2 separate regions of the Homo sapiens genome follow, and region 2 is linked to region 1. A link means that fine-mapping ties the variant in region 1 to the expression of a gene that starts in the linked region. Tissue or cell type: whole blood. Region 1 holds a variant in brackets; the other region holds the start of a gene. All regions are shown on one strand. Distances are from middle to middle.

Region 1 (8,103 bases):
GGAACTATGGCACGGTTTTGCTCTCGACTCTCTTGAGTCCTTGCAGAGGAGGCATGGAAAGATCTGGTGTGAGTCACTGCCATCGATCAACATGACATTGTTCTCGAAGGGCTCGCAGTGGGGAAACCTAAAAAGGAAGAAAATGAGAGCACTTGCCAAGGCTACTGAACAAAGGGTCAAGCACCCAGCCAGTCACTGAGTTCCAGACTCTTAATAACAAGGTTATGAAGCTATGCGAAGCCTTCATCCCTTCTCATAACTACACAGGCATGTCGGGGCTTCTGAAGTTGTGACAGTGATTTCCTTTAAAGAAAACGATTCTAAGTAAACCAAGGACACTTCACCCTTGACTTTGAAAATGTCTACAAACTTTCCCAGAGCAAATCTCTGCCGGCGTTTCTCACTTCCCGATCTGATCGGCCTGAGGAGCCCACGGGCTGGGCTGGCACGTTCTTTTGTTCAGCTTCTCTACCGGAAGGAGTTTGTGTAAAAAGGAATAGAAATCAGTGTTCATGCCACAATAGGGGTAATTGTTCTGAGCTGCCACATTCCGTTAAATGTTTACCTTTTTGTTTCACAATCTAACAGGAAACGAGGAGCAAAGGATTTTTGGTTCCCTTATCCCCCTTTGGTCAAGACTAAAAAAGACCAGTTGTTATTCTAGTTGCTCAAAAATGAAATGCTCAAGGTAGGAAATGAGCACAGTTGCTAAAGACTCCAGATCACAATCTGGGGTTTCAACCAAATCCGTTGCATGAAATGTTTCAGAGGAATGAGGCTTTGTCAACCTTCTCCATGTGCCTCCAGGACAGGATGTTTAGCAAGAGGTGCTGAACATTGTAACCATCTTTCTATGTGATCTATAGAACACTATGGATGACCAAGATAAAAAACTGGACAGATTAGATTCCTTAGTAGCCAAATACAAGGTAGGGAAGTGGCAAAAAGCTGGGACCCGTTGGGAAGGAGGCCGGAGGGCTTCGCCAGGCTCTCCTCCGCCATTTCAGATCCATCCTTCAAGACCAGACCCCAACCCAGCTTCTACTTCGAGGAGAAGTATTTGTTTAAAGTTCCATTTGTGGAATGGCCCAGCTGGGATGAAAACCAGGCTGTGAATTCTAGTACCAGCTCCACCCCTGAAAAACAGAGTAGAACCTCCCTGGGCTAACGTCTTCTAATAATCCAATCATAGAGTAAACTATGTCTTTTGGGGCATTTTAAACTTTTTTATTGCTTTGAAATAGAGTCAGGGGAAGAAAGACTTTACCATCTAGGTTCGATAGCTGGGTCTAGGAAATACACTGACAATACACAGATTTAACAGGAAAAAGGGTAAACAAATTTATTAATTTTTAATATGTGCACAGGGGCCATCATAGGAAGAAAAAAACAATATCACAAAAAAGTGATGCCATCTTAACAGAGAAAAGGGAGAGGAGATGTGGGCTACCGTGAGGAGAGGAAATGATTTTTAGGAAAGAAAAATGGGCCTTTAGAAGACTAGATGGGAGATACGAGGGTTTGTGGCAGTTTGTCCGGATGTTAAGGCAGCCCTTGCTGACTCCTGGGGAGGGGACTTAGGACAACTGATGTCCTTTTGGAGGCTCTGCCTTTGGGCAGATGAGAGGAGTTCAGGGAAACCATGTCTCTGCATTTACTGTTTTCCAGTGCTTTCTGCTCAAAATCACCAACATTCCAAAGTGGCATATTTGGGGGCAGTCTGTCCTGAACCCCTACTCGACAGTAAAAAACATTTTTTAAAAATTAAAAATGGGCCAGGCGCGGTGGCTGACACCTGTAATCCCAGCACTTTGGGAGGCTGAAGTGGACAGATCACTTGAGGTTAGGAGTTCAAGACCAGCCTGGCCAACATGGTGAAACCCCATCTCTACTAAAAATACAAAAATTGCCTGGGTCTGGTGGTGCTTGCCTGTAGTCCCAGCTACCCGAGAGGCTGAGGCAGGAGAATTGCTTGAACCTGGGAGGCAGAGGTTGCAGTGAACTGAGATCGTGCCACTGCACTCCAGCCTGGGCAACCGAGTGAGACTCCATCTCAAAAATAAACAAATAAAAATTAAAAATGGATAATTCGGTCATAAATAAGATTGTCATAGTGAAATAAATTTAATGGTTTTCAATACTTACTAAATATTTCTATATTCAAAGCCCAGTCCCTGAACTTTGCAGAGGCACTTGGGTTCAAGTCCCACCTCTGCCACTTACTAGCCGTGTAACTCGGGAGAAACCGTTTAACCTTTCCTTTCTGTGCCTCAGTCTCCACATCTACAAAAAGAGGGAGATAACAGTAGGGACTCACAGGTTTCTGTGAGGATGAAAAGAGCCAATGCAAATATAAAGTAGTGCCTGGCACATAGTAAACACTCAATAAATGCCAACACTTGTCACAATAATATCGTTACAACATTTTTTTAAAAAGGGTTTTATACTTGGAAAAGAATGTAAACTTTTTAAAAGCTGCAATGAATAAATCTGCAGCCAGACCAAAGATGTGCACTTTGTATTTAATTTTTTTTAGATTTTTCCCATCATTGGCTAGATGTACACATTCAAATTTCTTTTCTTTCTTTTTTTTTTTTTTGAGACAGAGGCTCGCTCTGTTGCCCAAGCTGGAGTGCAGTGACGCAATCTTGGCTCACCACAACCTCCAGCACCTGGGTTCAAGCGATTCTCCTGCCTCAGCCTCCTGAGTAGCTGGGATTACAGGCATGTGCCACCATGCCCGGCTAATTTTTATATTTTTTAGTGGAGATGGGGTTTCCCCAGGTTGGCAAGGCTGGTCTTGAACTCCTGACTTCAGGTGAGCCACCCGCCTCGGCCTCCCAAAGTGCTGAGATTACAGCTGTGAGCCACCGCACCCGGCCTCAAATTTCAAATAATTCTTATCAACATGAAAGTTTGACCTTCTTTTTTAGACCATAAAGGAGCATTTCACTGATGTGCATATTTATCTTTAAGACCCTTTTCATTGTAAGTGATGCCAACTGAATTCAAACCAGCTTAGGCGAGAAGAGCTCCGTGCAGGCCCAGGTGAGCACACTGCAGGAAAGGCAGACATAGTGTTCACATGAGGAGGGTGCGGGCCCAGAAGCTTCGCTCCACCACGACTCTGTGTGTCCTGAGTGTCCCCTCACTGTCACACACTGGGACAACACAATGGTCTCAGCTGGACTGCTGGGGTTTGAGGCTTCTTAGAGGCTTTCCTCCGCAGGAGCCCTGTCTATCAACAGCCGCCAGGCCCACGCCCTAAAAATTCCAAGAGTGTGGAGGAACGTGGATTTTCTCTCCGAGGTCCTGCTTAAAAAATCTCAAGGAAGAACTCATTGGTGAACTTTGGGTCCCACAGACCCTACACCAGGTCCTAGAACTGGTCCCTTCAGGAGAACAGAGCGGCAGAGGGGGGAGATTTATCAGAGTAATGGCAGAGAGAGAGGCTGACAAAAAGCATGAGACCCTCAGAGGCAACCAGGCCCTCATAAATGCTCCATGAGTCAGGTGTCTAGGAATGCAAAAGATGCAGCCAGGCGGGTGGCTCATGCCTGTAATCCCAGCACTTTGGGAGGCTGAGGCAGGTGGATCACAAGGTCAGGAGATCAAGACCATCCTGGCCAACATGGTGCAAACCTGTCTCTACTAAAAATTCAAAAAATTAGCCGGGCATGGTGGCGGGTGCCTGTAGTCCCAGCTACTCAGGAGGCTGAGGTTGGAGAATCGCTTGAACCCGGCAGGTGGAGGTTGCAGTGAGCCGAGATCGCGCCACTGCACTCCAGCCTGGGTGACAGAGCAAGACTCCGTCTCAGAAAAAAAAAAAAAAAAAAAAAAAAGATGCTGCAGGCTGGACATCACGGCCACGGTCGGTAACGTACATAAGGCTTGCCTTGAGACAGAGCTTGTTGTGAAAACCCATCTGTTCATTGATCTCAGAGGGGGATCCTGGGATGTAAAGGTTTCTTCATCCAGCAGCCAGGAGTGCTTCTGCTGGCTGCCCCTGCTGCATCAGGCAACAGTCTCGTCCCCCCCGGGAATGAGTTTAAAGAGGCAGGGCCATGCCGGGAAGGAAGCAGCTAACCCGGTCCTCGGGGAATGATTTCATTCTGGGGATTGATGAAAACAAACAAGTGTCTCTTTCAAACTGCTGTGCTGC[G/A]GTGGACTTTACAAAATTTCCACCATCTAAATCAGTTACAAAGTTGGGTGAACTATATATTTATTTATTTATTTATTTATTTATTTATTTTGCGTGTGTGTCACTCCGTGGAGTGACTTCCTCACACTTGCAAGTTCATTTCTAGTCCATCAGCTCTGTCTAGAAGTTCTAAAAAAGATCTTTTTAATAAATTCTGCTAAACATTGCAGAGGAATGGTTTGTTTTCGTTTGTCGTGAACTGTACAGGCCCACCTCCAGGCCTCTGGGGAACCATATGAGGCATTTTCCAAAGTTATTTCCAGAATAAACAAGGCTTGAGAGGCCAGCCTCGCTCAACCACGGCCCACAGCTTCACTTCTCTGCTCCAGGCGGGAGGAGAAACCCCTGACCTTCTGTAAATATTTCAACACAAGCAGTTCTCTGCGGGATTAGAATTTGTGTTTTTGAGTCAACTCTAAAACAGACCCAGAAAAGGCACCTTTCTGATTGTTCTATTGATATTGAAAAGTTTCAACTTTATGGTTTTTATGGCTGTTCAAGGAATTTCACATTCCAAGACCCTGGGGCAGAAAGGGCACAAAAGGAGAGTCTAAATGATTAGATGGTAGGGCCTGTTTTTACTCAGCCATGAACAAGGAAGGTCCCAGAAAAACTCTACGTGATTGAGAAATACTTTTGGCCACCAGCGCAACCTGCTAATTGGGAACACCCAATGCCCTTAATATGAAGCCTAAAAAATGAGATGGTGTCATCATCCAGGTTGTGGGGCGTGGAGGGGCCTTGGTGAGCTCAAAAGAGCACATCTGCCCGAAAAGACAGCCCTGCCCAGCGCCAGACACCTGGTGCCAATGCACACTGTCACGACACCATCTGACTTTTTAAAAGAGAAACAAGGAATCTCTAAGTTTTTGTTTTTTGAGACAGAATCTTGACTCTGGCACCCAGGCTGGAGTGCAGTGGCGCGATCTTGGCTCACTGCAACCTCTGCCTCCCACAGGTGATTCTCGTGCCTCACCTCCTGAGACTACAGATGTGCGCCACCACGCCTGGCGAATTTTTTGTATTTTTAGTAGAGACGGGGTTTCGCCATGTTGGCCAGGCTGGTCTTGAAATCCTGGCCTCAAGTGATCCGCCTGCCTCAGCCTCCCAAAGTGTGGGATTATAGGCATGAGCCACTTCACCCGCCCTCTAAGTTTTTAATATCGTAAACTAAAATTTAAGAGGTTAAGCGCCAACAACTCTGACCCCTCAAAGTTCTGGTCTTCCCATAATGACTTCTTGAATTTTTTTTCTGAAATCTCAAACATTCTTCTGATCCTGCCTTGGTGTGACACACGTGTCATCTGTATCGTCCCACATGTGGCCGGCCATGGCATGCACAGAGGCACCAGTGGGGAACCGACTCTCCAAAGAGACTCAGGCCTTGGGACTCACAGGCAGGCGCGTCTGGCATCCAGTGTTACATTCTGTGGTGTCATTGCCTTCTGTGATTCCAAAGCGTGCAGCGGTGTCCTGCTGAAAGTTACTGCCTGGTCAGAGCTCACCCCGAGAGGGATGGGAGGGAAAGGTCTGGGAAGCAGCAGAGGTAGCCTGCAGGAATCCAGGAGGTGAAGTCTGGAATCAGAGCACAAGGGCTGGCTCACATGGATTTGCAGACAAGGAAGTGGCCCTGGGGAGAACAGCCTAGAAGTGAATAGAGCTTCCTGCAGCCAGGCAGGTAGGCGCGAGGATGACTGCAATCCCATCATCAAGGAAAGTGTGACATCACAGCCAGCAAGCTCTGAACACTGGGGCTACTGAAAAAAATTAAGACACATAGACTGTGTCAGGCCCAGAGGCCAACTGAGCCAGCCTATTCACTGTCAGGCCGGGAGGCCGGCTGAGCCGGCTCTATTCACTATCAGGTCCCATTCACTGTCTCTGTTTCCCATATTCCTTGCTACTCCCAACCTTGTTTCCCCTGGTGGTGTCCACACTCAAGCTCTGCAATGATTTACCCATGCTGATGAGTGAAGAAATGCAACCCAAAGCCTCTTCGGTGCCCAATAATGGCCTAAGATGTTCACATCATATACTAGTTCTGTGCTGTTTGAATTTTTTTTTTTTTTTGAGGCAGGGTCTCACTCTGTTGCCCAGGCTGGAGTGCAGCGGCGTGTGCATAGCTCATTGCAGCCTCAAACTCCTAGGCTCAAGCTATCTTTGCGCCTTCGCCTCTTGAGTAGCTGAAATTACAAGGGCTCACCACCATGCCCAGCTAATGTTTAAATTTTTTATAGAGATGGGGTCTTGCTGTGCTGCCCTGGGCTCACACAATCTACCTGCCTTGGTCTCCCAAGGTGCTGGGACTACAGGTGTGAGCCACTGCACCCAGCCTTGATTTTTTAATTAACTAGTAGACTTTATTATTTTTTTAATAGTTTTAGGTGTACAGGAAAAGCAGAGCCAAAAGTACAGAATTCCCATATGCCCCAACTCAGTTCCCCTGTTATTAACACTTTGCATGAGTGTGGCATGTTCGTTACAATTGCTGAGCCAATCAGCACTATTAAGTAAAGTCCACAGTTCACATTAGTTTCATTCTTGGTGTTATATGTTCTATGAATTTGGACAAATGCATATTGACATAAATCCACTGATTATAGTATCATACAGAGTGTCTTCACTGCCCTAAAAATACTCTGTGGTCTATATGTGCTCTTTTTTTTTTTTTTTTTTGGAGACAAGAGTCTCGCTGTGTTGCCCAGGCTGGAGTGCAGTAGCATGATCTCATCTGGGCTCACTGCAACCTCCAACTCCTAGGTTCAAGCGATTCTCCTGCCTCAGCCTCCTGAGTAGCTGGGATCACAGGCATGTGCCACCATGCCTGGCCAATGCCTGTATTTTTAGAAGAGACAGCGTTTTGCCATATTGGCCAGGCTGGTCTCAAACCCCTGACCTCAGGTGATCCACCCATCTCGGCCTCCCAAAGTGCTAGGATCACAGGCGTGAGCCACCGTGCCCGGCTACATGCGCTTTTTATTTGGTAACTTATTCAATTTTTAAATTATTTTTTAAATATTTCCCCCCAAAAGTCAGTGTAGAGTCATCTTAAAATACACACACACACAACTGTAATCTCAGTGTGCTTGGCAGAAATCTAAGATGTAACCCGCCCCACCAAATTTCCAGGCCCCTGATATACACATACCGTCTTCCAGTTATCCAACCAAACGTGAATCTAGGTACTGCTGTGAAAAGGAGCTGCAATGTAATTAAGGTCCCAAATCAGTTGACATGAAAATAGAGAAAATACTCAGTGGGCCTGACCTAGTGACATGAGCCCTTTCAAGGCAGACAGTTTTCTCCAGATGGTCACAGAACAGGCAGTCGGGGCGGCACGGGAGGATTCTGTGCACCCCTGCTGGCCTGAACGGGCCGCGTGGTAGGGATGTGGGCGGCTTCTGGGTGCTGAGAACAGTCCCCAGCTGACAGGCAGCAAGGAAAGGGGACCTCAGTCTTGTAATACAAAGGACTGAATTTTGCCAACAAGAATGAGCCCAGAAGTGGATTTTCCTCAGCAAACGAACGCAGGAACAGAAAACAAAACACCACATGTTCTCACTTATAAGTGGGAGCTGAATGCTGAGAATACATGGGCACATGGAGGGGAACAACACACACGGGGCCCTGCGGGGATAGGGGGAGGGGGAGCGTCAGGAAGAATAGCTAATGGATCCTGGGCTTAATAACTAGGTGATGGGATGATCTGTGCAAAACCACCATGGCACACATTGCCCTATGGAACAAACCTGCACATCCTGCACATGTACCCCTGAACTTAAAATAAATTGAAGATTAAAAAAAAACAAAAAAAGTGCATTTTCCTCTACAGCCTTGAGACAAGAACTCAACCTGGTCAATACCTTGATGTCCTGAGGCTTATGATATCCTGAGAAGAAAAT
Region 2 (8,103 bases), 260 kb after region 1:
CCAGGCTCAGGCGATCCTCCCACCTCAGCCTCCCAAGTGGCCCAGACCACAGGTGCACAACTACTCCTGGCTAAGTTTTGTATTTTTTGTAGAGACAGGGTCTCACTAGGTTGCCTAGGCTTGTCTCAAACTCCTGGGTTTGGCAATCTTCCTGCCTCAACCTCCCAAAGTGCTAGGATTACAGGTGGGAGCCACCATGCTGCATCAAAACATTTTAAGAAAAGAAAAAAATCCCTTTATTTTCAATTCTGTAAAATGACACCACCAGTGCTTGCCCACAAGCTCATCTTTTTTTTTTTTTAACATAGTAGTAACTACCTGATATTCTAGTTCTTTTATTATATTTTCCAAGTTTTTATAATCTTTTGGTTACTATTTTAATGGTTACCAAAATTACATTTTGATACTTAATGCACTTATTTAGGGCATTGAGGCCAAAAGGTTGAATTACAGGAGAGATGGAGGATTGTGGGGAGAGCAAGGGTGAGTAGGGAGAGGAAGGAGGGAAGAGGGAGGAGTCAAGTCACTGAGGGCAGAGGGCAGAGGTCAGAAGGCCAGTGGGATCCTGGTCCCTGCTCCTCCACTTTTCCTGGGATTCTGGAAGCTATCCAGTGTCTTTCCAACATGCTTCACCTTCCTTCCTTCCTTCCTTCCTTCCTTCCTTCCTTCATTCCTTTTCTTCCTTCCTTCCTTCCCTCTCTCTCTCTCTTTCTTTTCCTACAGAGTCTTCCTTTGTGGCCCAGGCTGGAGTGCAATGGCACGATCTCGGCTCACTGCAACCCCCACCTCCTGGGTTCAAGCAATTCTCCTGCCTTAGCCTCCCAAGTAGCTGGGATCATAGGCGCCCACCACTACTCCCGGCTAATTTTTGTATTTTTAGTAGAGATGGGGTTTCACCATATTGGCCAGGCTGGTCTCAAACGCCTGGCCTCAGGTGATGCACCTGCCTCGGCCCCCCAAAGTGCTGGGCTTACAAGTCTGAGCCACCGTGCCCGGCTGTTTTCTTAAATTGGATGGAAGTGGTTTCTCTTGGACGTTAGGTTCCGTCCTCTGTCCGACCCTGCTGGCACATGGGGGTGCTGAGAAATATCTGTCGAAAGAGTTAACAAGTCTTAAGTGATTCGAGCACTTTCCATCTTAGAGGACAGTGTGCGAGCACTCGCCCTGGGCTCTCCTGCCAGCAGGGGTCCCCCAGGGACTCTCTTCACTTTATTTGCCCTCGCAGGAATCTTCTTTCAGTTCCTCCTCCTCGGAGGCCACGCTTCCCCGACTTCTCTCGCTGGAGGCTCCACACTCCACTCACCACTGAACGGATGGCTGCCCTGTTCCTTTCGGCTCCTGCTCAGATGCCCCTTTTCCAGGGCATCCCGAGGGCCCTGTCTGAAATCACACTTGCCCTGACTACCTGCCCCTGTACTGTCTCCTTGTTATTGTTCTTCATAGCAATAAACAATTCCTACAGCGTATGTTAATGTTGTTGTCTATCGCCTCCAGTCAGAAAGTTCATGAGAGTAGAAACTTTTTATTTTGTTCACCGTTCTTTCCCCTAAACAGAGACTCCCATAGGCTGGTGCCCCACTCACTGATTCAACAAATATTTATCGAGTCTGCCTACTATAAAGGATAAATACATAAAATAGTGCGATAGCCAGGTGTGGAGGCTCACACCTGGAATCCCAGCACTTCCGGGGGCCGAGGCAGGAGAATCTCTGGAGCCCAGGAGTTTGAGGCCAGCCTGGGCAACATAGCAAGACCCTGTCTGTACAAAAAATAAAAAAGCCATGCATGGTGGTTTGCGCCTGTAATCCCAGAGGGTTGGAAGGCTGAGGCTGAGGCAGGAGGATTGCTTGAGGTTAAGATTTTGAGACCAGCCTGGGCAACACATTGAGACCCCATCTGAAAAAAAAAAAACTAGCTGAGCGTGGTGGCATGTGCCTGTGGTTCCAGCTATTTGGAAGGCCAAGGTAGAATTGCTTGAGCCTGGGAGGTCAAGGCTACAGTGAGTCATGATCACGCCACTGAACTCCAGCCTGGGTGACAGAGTGAGATCCTGTCTCAAAATAATAAAATAATAATAATAATAATAATAATAATGGCCAGATGTGGTGGCTCACACCTGTAATCCCAGCACTTTGGGAGGCTGAGGCAGGTGGATCACTTAAGGCCAGGAGGTCAAGACCAGCCTGAAGTCCTTTTCAAACCTTTTGTCATATTGCCCAGGCTGGAATACAGCAGCATGATCTCAGCTCACTGCAACCTCCGACTCCCAGGTTGAAGCTATCCTCCTGCCTCAGCCTCCGGAGTAGCTGTGACTACAGGGGCCCGCCACCACGCCTGGCTAATTCTTTTATCTTCTGTAGAGACAGGGTTTCACCATGTTGGCCAGGCTTGTCTCAAACTCTTGACCTCAGGTGATCTGCCCGCCTCAGCCTCCCAAAATGCTGGGATTATAGGCGTGAGCCACCGCGCCTTGCTCGGCTTTTTCATTTTCTTACCAGTATCTTGAGCAAATGTTTCTAATTTTGATAAAGTCCAATTTATCAGTTTTGTTCATCTATTGATTAATTTACAAAAATGGTATCTATGGTATACATCATGACTTGTTTGTTTGTTTTGAGAAGGAGTTTTGCTCTTGCCACCCAGGCTGGAGTGCAGTGGTGTGATTTTGGCTCACTGCAACCTCTGCCTCCCAGGTTCAAGCAATTCTCCTGCCTCAGCCTCCCAAGTAGCTGGGACTACAGGCACCTGCCACCACGCCCAGCTAATTTTTGTATTTTTAGTGGAGACAGGGTTTCACCACATTGGCCAGGCTGGTCTTGAGCTCCTGACCTCAGGTGATCCACCTGCCTCGGCCTCCCAAAGTGCTGGGATTACAGGTGTGAGCCACTGTGCCTGGCCATGATTATTATTATTATTATTATTGTTATTAGTTTGATGTTTTGATATATGCATACATTGTGGAATGGCTGAATCAAGCTAATTCGCATGTGTATTACTTCACGTTTTTAGCATTTTTTTGTGATGAGAACACAAAATCGATTTTTAGAAATCTTCAACTATACATTGTTATTAATCAGAGTCACCCTGAGGTACATAGATCTCTTGAACTTATTCCTCCTGTCTCAATTTTTTTCCTGTGTGATTTGTGTCTTGTCTAAGAAATATTTGCCTAACCTGAGGTTGTGAAGGTGTTCATGTTTTTTCCCCTAGTAGTTCTATCATTACGTTGTAACCACTTTTCTTTCTTCTTTTTTTTTTTTTTTTTGAGACATGGTCTCGCTCTGTCACCCAGGCTGGAGTGCAGTGGGACGATCTTGGCTCACTGCAGCCTCAACTTCCCAGGCTCAAGTGATACAGGCATGCACCACCACACCTGGTTAATTGTTGTATTTTTGGTAGAGACAGTGTTTCTCCTTCTCTTTTTTTTTTTTTTTAGACAGAGTCTCGCTCTGTCACCCAGGCTGGACTGCTGTGGCGCAATCTTGGCTCACTGCACCCTCCGCCTCCTGGATTCAAGCAATTCTCCTGCCTCAGCCTCCTGAGTAGCTGGGATTACAGGCACGTGCCACCATGCCTGGCTAATTTTTGTATTTTTAGTAGAGACGGGGTTTCACCATGTTGGTCAGGCTGGTCTCAAACTCCTGACCTCGTGATCCATCCGCCTCAGCCTCCCAAAGTGCTGGGATTACAGGCGTGAGCCACTGCACCCGGCCGAGACAGTGTTTCTCTATGTTGCCCAGGCTGGTCTTGAAATCCTAAACTCAAGTGATCCTCCTGCCTCGGCCTCTCAAAGTGCTGAAATTACAGGCATGAGCCACCGTGCCTGGCCTATCTTTGTAACTTTTGTGTTTAGGTCCACAGAAAGTTTTGAGCAAAGAACTACCATGATCTGACTTATGCAGATGCTTCTGGCATCACTCTGCTGTGCTGAGCCTGTGGCAGGCCCGAAGGCAGACTTCAGGACGCCTGTCGGGGACCTTTCCACCCATCCGGGCTTGGACCAGCTTGGGCAGAGTACAGTTGGGAGTAGAGGCCACATTCTGGAAATGTTTATCAGCGAGTTTTCTGGTGTTAAGTCCTTCCTCCCTCCTTGCTGAATAATAATCAACTTTATGAAGTTATTTCCTTTCTCTGAAGATTGAAGTGCTTGCGGCTTCACATGAGGCCACGTGTATGTACAGAATTGTCTTGAGCCTGGAGCAATGTTTGCTATGTATTTTAACTTTTCACTGTTTTAAAGGAAATAGCTGGTTTTACGTTTTAATCCACAGATTGTCATTCTTCAGGGATGGCAGCCCTAAACACAGCATGGCAACTCATCTACTCACTCATGAAAGATTAAAAAATGGAAACCAACGTATTTCATCTTATGCTCTGCGTCACTTCTGCTCGGACTCATAAATCCACGTCTCTTTGCTTTGGCCACTTCAACTCATATCCAAGCCTTCCTTTAATTCATGATTTATTGCTGTAAGTTGCCTCTTTTGCCAGATTTATAAACTCACTGTTCTTTATATAATACCTACTTTGTACACTAGGCAACAAGACAGTTAATTTATTGTCTATGACTTGTTACCTTGAAAAATTACATCAATGCAAAGTGATTGCCTTTTAGCCTCCATAGCCAATAAATTCATTTTTTTTTTTTTTTTGGAGAGGATGATGTCAGGTCATAGGATGATATATATAATCAGTGAGCAGGCAGAATGAGGAGACAGTTGAAAGTTCTCTACAACAGAAGCCAAGAAGGAAGCCGTCTATCTTGTGGCGATCATGTATAAGCTGGCCTCCTGCTGTTTGCTTTTCATAGGATTCTTAAATCCTCTCTTATCTCTTCCTCTCCTTGACTCCAGGGAAATATCCTTTCAACTCTCAGGTAAGATTTTTTTTTTCCCCTTATGTTAGTCTTGAAAGAGCCTTTACTAGTCTTAAATTCAATGTTAGAGATAAGAATGGGATTCCTGCTCGAAGGAGTCTGGAGTCTTGTTCTCTCAATAGTCCCAGCTTTGAAAAGAATATTAAAGGATCCTTACTGCACATTTTAGATGTAGTAATGGATACAGTTTTTTTTCTGTCTCTACAATGTAAAAGGAGAAGAGGATAATTGCTTGTTTCATGTTACCTCTGTACTCTTGTTTTGGGTAATATATACATTTTTCCAATTTTAAAAATTGCATGAAATTTAAAACATCATTACTTTTAGTTTTTACTTTAAATGAACTGGTTGAATGTAGCACTGGTTGTTCTAATTATAGATTATTAATGGATTTATTTGTTTCACCTTTTGTTTAAAAAAATCATCTGATATGTGTTCTACGAAACAAAAATGTTTACTAAAAATTTTTTAGTAAATGACAAACTAGGGAACTAGGGAGTTCATAGACTTCCAAGTATATTGATCGTTTCCTTTTGATTTATGTTAATTCAGTTTAAGTCTAAGTTGAGTTAAAGAAATACACATCAGTCAAGTAGTTTCTCATTTTGCCATTATCTTTCCATTTAGTTAGAGAAATGAGAAAGCTAATGCTTGGGGATTAGGTTCCATCAAAAACTTAACTAGATTTAATCTTATCTTTAATCTTGAGTACTTTTTAAATAGGCTTTTTTTAAATAAAGAAAAAAAACAAACAAACCCTCTTTTAAGCCAAGGATTTTATAGTTTCTCGTCTCTAAAAGTTCATCCCAAGCAGCTTTCTGATGATCGTCAAGCACTGTCATCAGGCACTGCCAACCAACTTCCCGAGTCACCGAGATGATCATTGGCTGTCCTACTAATAGTTAAACACTGGCATTAACTTTACTGAATCTCTGCTATTTACAAAGAAACAGCACACATCTCAAGATGAAATAAGTGAAAATACTCAGCTACTACTGTCATCTTAAAAAATTTTACAAGTAATTTAAGAAACATAGATGAAATGAGTGTAGCATCTCACACAAATTCGAAACAAGTGGCAGCTTATCGCAGAATTTGTTCTCATTTATTTCTCCAGAAATGTGCTTTCCTATCAGCATTTACAGATGATGAAATTTTATAGATTTTCATTAACAGTCTTTAGAAGTGCTGTGAATGTGCTCTGATGCCTTTATGATGATCTGCTCACTGTCCTCCAATCAAGGTTGCAGCTATTTGTAAGCCTGTGGCACGCTGGTCCCACACATGGCCTCCCACCCTGACTCCCACAGCCTCGAATCGCAACACAGCAGCAGGTCTGCACTTACCACGCCTCACACTCCGGTGTGCCCTTTCCACACACCTTAAGCGCACTTACCATGCATTCTATATGCCATCTGGTCGACCACATTTCACATAGGAAATGCCACAATCAAGTTCCTTACAGATGATTTTGAAGCCAATTCTAAGTATAATAATTGTATTGAAATCTTGAAGTTCAGTAAAAGAAGAGGTGATACCATCCTACTGGCTTTATAGGAAGATTGTAAACGATCTTTCTTTTTCCTCTCCAATGTCACCACCCAAATATCTAAAAGCAAAAAGGCAGTAGGCAGCAGTAGATAAGCAGAAATGAGGGAGAGTCAGACTTTTTGAACCAAAATGGTTTTGAGAAAGGCTGTGGCTTATCCCTCAGCTCTTGTTCGAGGCAGCCGAGGGGCTTGGCTCATCACGCGGGTGTCAGATCCACGTCTCCCGGCTTCCCATTCTGCTGGCTGGCACACGGGCTGGTAGCATTTCCACCTCTTCTAGAATACCACTGATGACACGTCATGAACTCAGCGTTGGAAGTTTTTCTAGTGTTCATCTCCCTATCTCTGGTGCTCGCCAAAGACACAAGGAACAGAAATAACTAACTGAAGGATGAACCCAATTCTAAGTATCTGTTTTTACTCTGTAGCACCTCATGAAGACGCGCGCTTAACTCCGGAGGAGCTAGAAAGAGCTTCCCTTCTACAGATACTGCCAGAGATGCTGGGTGCAGAAAGAGGGGATATTCTCAGGAAAGCAGGTAAAATGCTTCTCATGTTTATAGCGTGTCTGATTTAATTGCTACTGAACTTACCGTCTGTCCTCATCTAGAAGAGGTAAAGCTCTATTTTGGAATATAAAGATGAGCTATATAAAATAAGTAATTACCAACACTCTCCCCTCCCGGCCTGTGCAACCTTCTTTTCCCCAGCAGCTCCTTGCTCGCACTGTGCTCTTTGGTACCTCAGCATTTTGTCTTTCTGTGTGGACTTTTATTTTTGCGGGGTAGAGCTTGGTGGTAATTATTCCAGTTTCCAGTGAGTGCAATTTAAAATCCTAGTTTCCCGTTTACTGAAAACTTAAAGTAATCTTTCTGTACTCCAGTTTCTTAATCTGTAATCAGGAATGATTAAGTTTCCACCTCAGAAGGTAACTTGTGAAGAGTCAATGAGTCAAGGCAAGTAAAATGCTCGAGTCACACAGAAAGTCATTAATAAAATGTCAGCTTATTCCCCCGTGGCCACATTCCCCCAAGCATTGACACATATGCTCAGGAAGTTCTGGAAACAAAATTGAGCCTTTTGCTGGGTGCGGTGGCTCACACCTGTAATCCCAGCACTTTGGGAGGCTGAGGTGGGCGGATCACTTGAAGTCAGGAGTTTAGGACCAGCCTGGCCAACATGGTGAAAACCCATCTCGACTAAAAATACAAATATCAGCCGGGCATGGTGGCGGGCACCTGTAATCCCAGCTACTAGGGAGGCTGAGGCAGGAGAATTGCTTGAACCCAGGAGGCAGAGGTTGTGGTGAGCCAAGATCTCACCACTGCACTCCAGCCTGGGCAACAGAGCAAGACTCTGTCTCAAAAAAAAAAAAAAAAATTTGAGCCTTTTAAGATAGGTATTGTTTAATAGACAGGAGTTCATTTGTTATAAAATATCTTTGACGAGCTACTGGACTGCGAAGTTACTGAGGACAATGCAGTGACTTCTGTGAATTCGAGATAAGAACAGGAGTGCCTGTCTGTCTGCATTCAAGAAAAGCTTGCTGCAGTGTGGAAAAAGACCAGAAACTAGACATAATTTAGTAATATTATTTTGTATATTTTAAAACAAGCATACAAGAGAAACAACAGATCTGATGAACTGGCTTCAAAACTGTTTTTCAGACTCAAGTAC

The links. PIP is the estimated chance that this variant, and not a neighbour inherited with it, causes the effect.
Region 2: UTS2 starts here. The variant in region 1 is fine-mapped to the expression of UTS2 in whole blood (TOPMed, PIP above 0.99).

What each region holds. Positions count from the first base shown.
Region 1 is chr1:8,113,498-8,121,600 of GRCh38, reverse strand. ERRFI1-DT (ERRFI1 divergent transcript) reads right to left here. Exons shown (of 3, transcript NR_185980.1): 3 at 1-127. Among named protein-coding and RNA genes, the nearest start is that of ERRFI1-DT, 91 kb to the right of the region's middle. RefSeq lists enhancers at 185-494, 5,507-6,007. The variant G/A (reference allele first, on the strand shown) is at 4,163.
Region 2 is chr1:7,849,674-7,857,776 of GRCh38, reverse strand. UTS2 (urotensin 2) reads left to right here and starts at 4,712. Exons shown (of 4, transcript NM_006786.4): 1 at 4,712-4,876; 2 at 6,855-6,965; 3 at 8,094-8,103. The coding sequence starts at 4,774. RefSeq lists an enhancer at 4,504-5,192.